Linked DNA regions of Homo sapiens: region 1 is linked to region 2. Evidence: fine-mapped QTL for protein levels in blood plasma. Region 2 holds a variant in brackets. A gene starts in the other region. All regions are shown on their reverse strands.

Region 1 (2,500 bases), not on the chromosome of region 2:
AAGTCAGGAATCTGTTCACTGCTGAAGAGAGAAGAGGGCAAAGGGCAGCAGCTCCATTTAAAAGGTTCTAATAAGCCTCGGGCCTTTCTCTGTCTGAGAAACTTACTCTCTGCCCTCTGTCTCCCTAGATTACTGCCCCTATGCCTGGAGGAAAAACAGGTGAAGGCTAAAAGCCACGGGGATAGCTAAAGAGGGCAAACTGGACCTCCAGCTCCACTTCTGCAGGTCTATGTCAGTCCACAGCCCTTGCACACGCTCCCTTTTAATTCTCCAAGCATACCTCTCACTTCCAAAACTCCTGTGACTCTGCTGATGAGGGCGTCTCGGCCTGGAATGCTCCTCCTTATCTGCATTGTGTGGGTGTCAAAAAGAGTATATTTTGATGACCTCTCCCCGCCCCTCATGCTCGCTCACATCCCCCTCACTCCTTTCAAAGTCCGTTCCCAAAGGCCCCAGTTCACCGTCCTGGGCTGCTTTTAGCCAGGTAAGATCTAAAGTGATCCTCTCTTGGAACCTGGTCTGGGGCCTATACATCTGGGTCAGTCTAGGGGTGCTCTCGAAGGGCCACCCTCAAAGAGCGAGCCTCGGCTGGATTCAGTTCCTAGGTCCCAGCCGTCCGACCTCTGCGACAACACTCAGCACACCCCTTCCCCTCTCCGGGTCTCAGTTGCCCCGTGAGTACAGTCCCTGCTCCAACACGCAAGGTAATCGTTTCTGGCTGCTCTGATGCACTCGGTCCCTAAACTCAGCCTTAGGTCAACCCAGAAAGCACCCGACCCGGGCGACCCCGTAGCTCCCCACCCTCCCGCACTGCCCAGTCGCTGACACAGGGTGACCTCCAATGGCAAGGCCACGACTCTTACCCGTCCGTAGGCGCCCCCCTGTCTGGCCTCAGCTCGCAAGCAGGCTGCACCCACTGAACTCCAGGCCCGGACCGCCACCCTTTACTCCCCTCCCGCGTGAGCCGAGAATCAGCCGAGCTTCCTCCACCAAGAGGATTGGCCCAGCTCGGCGACGACTCAGCCAATTGGCGCTCACGGCGTGATCTTGCCCAATAAAGACGGGGCTCTGTCGCCAGCGTGCCCCTCCCCGCGCTGGGCCGGGGCTTTGCCAGGTTAGTCCCACCCTCTTCGGCCCTGCACCAATAGGGAGAGGCGGCGACGAGCGGACGGCCAATGGGGAGCGGGGCTGCGCGCGCGGGGCGGTGGGAACGGCGCCGAGTCAGTGTACACGTCGGTTGCCTAACAACCGGCAGCGGACTCCTTTGGCTATGGTGAGTGCTGCCGCTCTGTCGCGCCCCACGCCCAGCGGCTGAGCCCTTCCCAGGCCCCAGCTCGGCCACGCCGCCTCTCCTGCGCCTTTCTCGGCTTTAGCGCACCAGTCTTTCCTTTGAGCTCTTTCCCGGGAGAGTAGGGTACAGACGCTAACCAACCTACTGGGCCTGCGCTTCGCTGCTGCCTCCTCTTCACCCACAACAGGCCCACACCCGCCCCTCGGGCTCCCCTTGCATTCCCTGATCCCCTCGGTGAACCTCCCTGGGCAAAAAAGACTCGAATCCCTCACAGGCCCCTGACTCTCTCAGACCTTGGCCCCCTGGCCTCCTCATTCTGCCAAAATTTCCACACACAGCTGGGAAAAGGTGTATCGTGTTCTGTTACAATGTTTTTTACAATTTAAATACAGGGGCATTCAGGGGATGCTTTAGCTTCTTGGAGAAGGCACGAAGGTGCCAGATGGATTGAGTTTTATTACTCGGTACTGACACAATATACATCTTAACAACTTACTAATATTTGGCCAAATCTAGAAGTAATTGGGAAGTCGGAGTACTTACTGGGAAGGGGAGTACTGGGAGTGGGCATCGTAAGACTGTTTTCAGAACCAGGATCCCCACGTTCGGGAAGAGCTGATTATCTCTAGTTATTCACAGTCATCTTCTTGACTGGCTCTCTTTTGGGATGATTTTCAGTAAGAGGTGTCCTTACTGAACAAGTGATCTCCCTGCTTCTAGAAACAACAGTAAAGAAAAGGGAGGGGTAGAAGTTCATGGAAAGATTCATTGTTCTTGCCAGTAAACCCTGTTATCTTTCTTTTTAAGCAAAGCTTTGGAATTGGTTATATAAATGACTTTAAAAATACATATGGGTGTCTGTAACTATGTTATGTAAATATGGACTGTATGATATATTATTGTGCTTGTGTATTGCATAACATATAAAGGCCTCCAACTTTAAGAAGGCAAACATGGCATCAAGTTCTCAGCGAAAAAGAATGAGCCCTAAGCCTGAGCTTACTGAAGAGCAAAAGCAGGAGATCCGGGAAGCTTTTGATCTTTTCGATGCGGATGGAACTGGCACCATAGATGTTAAAGAACTGAAGGCAAGCTCTGTGCATTCCTGCCGTACTGCCCTTCCTTTCCTCTGCCTCTTCCTTGTCATCTCCCTATCACCTCTCTACCCCTTTTGCCCTCTTCTCCCTGCAGTAAGTAACAGGGGAGGTT
Region 2 (3,019 bases):
CATATAGCCTAGATATGTAGTAGGCTGTCCCGTCTAGGTTTGTGTAATTATACTCTATGATGTTTGCATGACGCATTTCTCAGAACCTATCCTTGTTGTTAAGTGACGCACAGGTACTAACAACTACTGAACTGTATGCTGTAAAATGATGAATTTCATGATATGTGAATTGTATCTCAATAGAAAAGAGCATTTATAAAGTTTTTGTTGCTAAATTTATTTACTTTCGGTAAATTTTCTTTTAAAAGATGTCTATGTTTTACTGTCTTCGTGGTGCTGGGACATAACTGACATCTGAAGCCTTGAATGCCTCTCTTTGCAAACTCATTTGTTACTACTCAGTTACCATCTCACCTCCAATACCCAACTGCATACCAAACCTCTAGCCATTACTAGAACACATACTCTGAGCTCTGCCATACTTTAGCGCCTGCACACATGCTGTTTCTTCTGCTCAGAAACTTTTGTGCCTTCTGTCCATCCCATCCAAGCCTGTTTTTCAATGCCCAACACAAATGTCACTGGTACCCTGAAACTTCAACTCCTCCTTGCCCCATCTCAGAAAATGTAACTTTCTGTATTCTTCTCTCTGTATATTCCTCTAAAGTGGTATTTCTTATACTATACCATAATGACCTGGTCCCATATTTGTCCTCTTCTTCCCTCTTCATCCCAGACTGGGACCACAAGGAGGTAGAACTTTTTCTGTTTTTTTTTTTTTTTGAGACAGAGTCTTGCTCTGTCGCCAGGCTGGAGTGCAATGGCACGATCTCGGCTCACTGCAACCTCTGCCTCCCGGGTTCAAGTGATTCTCCTACCTCAGCCTCCCCAGTAGCTGGGATTTCAGGCGCACATCACCATGCCCAGCTAATTTTTGTATTTTTAGTAGAGACGGGATTTCACCATGTTGACCGGGATGGTCTCGATCTCTTGTCCTCGTGATCCGCCCGTCTCAGCCTCCCAAAGTGTTGGGATTACGGCCATGAGCCACTGCGCCCGGCCGGAGGTACAACTTTCTTAGTCAATCTTGAGCACCAGTGTAGTGCTTAGAATCGGGTAGTGAGAGAAGCTAACATTTACTGAATGCCTAAGAAGTCCAGGGCACATAACAGTCTTCACAACCATCCTGTGAAGTACGTATTACCCTATCCATTTTACAGATAAAGAAACTTGAGTTTCAAGAAAGGTATACCTAAGGTCATTCAACTTGTTAAATGATGGAATGGAGGAGTTGAGACCAGATTGGACTTCTGCCTCTTTTTTTTTTTTTTTTTTTTTTGAGACAGGCTGGAGTGCAGTGGTGTGATCTCAGCTCACTGCAAGCTCTGCCTCCCAGGTTCACGCCATTCTCCTGCCTCAGCCTCCCAAGTAGCTGGGACTACAGGCGCCTGCCACCACGCCCGGCTAATTTTTTCTACTTTTAGTAGAGACGGGGTTTCACCGTGTTAGCCAGGATGGTCTCAATCTCCTGACCTCGTGATCTGCCCACCTCGGCCTCCCAAAGTGCTGGGATTACAGGCGTGAGCGACCGCGCCCAGCCGAACTTCTGCCTCTTAAATCCAGGGTTCTCCCTGTCAGTACAGTGAGGTGGTAACTAGCAAAAGCTATGAGATATGACTGCCTGGGTACATATCCCAGCTCTTTCACTTATCTTTGTGGCTTTAC[G/A]CAAATTACTTAACCTCTTTATGATTGTTTCTTCATTTGTAAAAGGAAGATAATAACAGTGCCTATATATAGGGTTTTTATGAAGAATAAATGAGATAGTATATATAAAGCACTTAGAACAGTATCTGGCACATACTAGGTGCTCAATAAATGTTAGCGATGACATTTATTACTGTCCCACATTGAGCTGGTGTTTGTTAAACACTGGATGACTGGATAAAATGTACATCTTTCATGCAGAGATTGCTCGATTATCCATTTCACTGATTCAGGATCAGAGTCTCTTAAGAATCCAGAGAGGGGATGTTGAAGCCCTAAGAAGTAAAAACACTAAAATGATAACATTTTGACCTTTTGAAAACTCTTTGAAGTGGCAATGGCCACAAAATTGAGCGGAAACCAAACATATTCAGCCCCATTTCCAGATAAATTGGATTTGCTAAACCACTCAGAATAACAAGAGCAAGAATTAGATGTTCAGCTAAGCTCTAGCTTCTGATCCTAGATGGTGGCAATAACAACGATAGTATTAATGATAATAGCAGAAACTCTTAATATGTGTGAGGCATTCTTCTAAATGCTTTACATATATTAATTTAATGTTCATCGGAGCAGATTCTCCTACTGTATCCAAGAGATCAGAAATTCAGAGCAAAAAGCAGATTGCTGCCTGATAGCAGATCCACTCTAGGAATGGGGAGATTTTCTCATAAATCTAATGACTGGTGAAAGTGACAAGAGGTTAGTCCACTCAGTGTTGGAAAGGACAAGATCCTAGAAAGTGGAAATGCTCCACTATTGCTTTAGGGGGAACAGCCTGGCTACAACTGGGCAGACTTTCTATTACTAACATCAGGATAATAGGGAAGCTCCTGCCAATGCTGCATAGAACTAAGAACACTTAGCAGTGATGGCTGACTTCCAACTGAGCCATTAAGGTAAGTGTAGAAGAAAGCTCCAGGTAGAAATATCTTTGGGAACTCAGAGAACACACTGAGTGTTTGAAGCTGGTACTTAATCTATTATTGAACTCAGAGTTTGCCATTCTGGGGCCAATTTGAGTCCACTTATGACACCTCCCACAGCACTGCTCATTTCTGTTAACTGGGCTTCACAGAGGGTGAGAAGGGCAGCAATCAGATCATATAATTGGGCCTCATTGTAATAAAATGTTGATTTCTGTTGTCCTTGGACTTCCTTCCAGCCACAATCACTCTATGATCTTGTCTGAGATTCTTTTTCCTTTCTCTCTCCATTTTGCTGACTGTAATGGAATAATAGCAGAAGCTCTCAATCTGTATGAGGAATATATATGAAGAATGTGTAACATTCACTGTGTTTCCTAATAGATGAA

Which allele goes with the higher level. Alleles are on the strand shown, and positions count from the first base shown. The strength of an association depends on the size of the effect and on how common the allele is.
As copies of G replace A in region 2, the plasma level of the protein whose gene starts at base 1,224 in region 1 goes up (weak association).

Evidence for each region. A credible set is the group of variants that fine-mapping cannot tell apart. PIP is the chance, under the fine-mapping model, that this variant and not a neighbour inherited with it causes the effect. Protein levels are from antibody-based Olink assays in UK Biobank. Linkage for the fine-mapping came from a reference panel and not from the study's own genotypes, which makes the PIPs less certain.
Region 1: CETN2 starts here. The variant in region 2 is the best candidate, but not a certain one, in a credible set for the plasma level of the CETN2 protein (UK Biobank, PIP 0.75).

What each region holds. Positions count from the first base shown.
Region 1 is chrX:152,829,481-152,831,980 of GRCh38, reverse strand. It overlaps CETN2 (centrin 2), which reads left to right and starts at 1,224. Exons shown (of 5, transcript NM_004344.3): 1 at 1,224-1,273; 2 at 2,221-2,379. The coding sequence starts at 1,271. It overlaps NSDHL (NAD(P) dependent 3-beta-hydroxysteroid dehydrogenase NSDHL), which reads right to left and starts at 918. Exons shown (of 8, transcript NM_015922.3): 1 at 864-918. RefSeq lists a silencer at 985-1,324.
Region 2 is chr22:31,301,769-31,304,787 of GRCh38, reverse strand. It overlaps LOC105372997 (a long non-coding RNA gene), which reads left to right and starts at 2,002. Exons shown (of 4, transcript XR_001755493.3): 1 at 2,002-3,019. The variant G/A (reference allele first, on the strand shown) is at 1,666.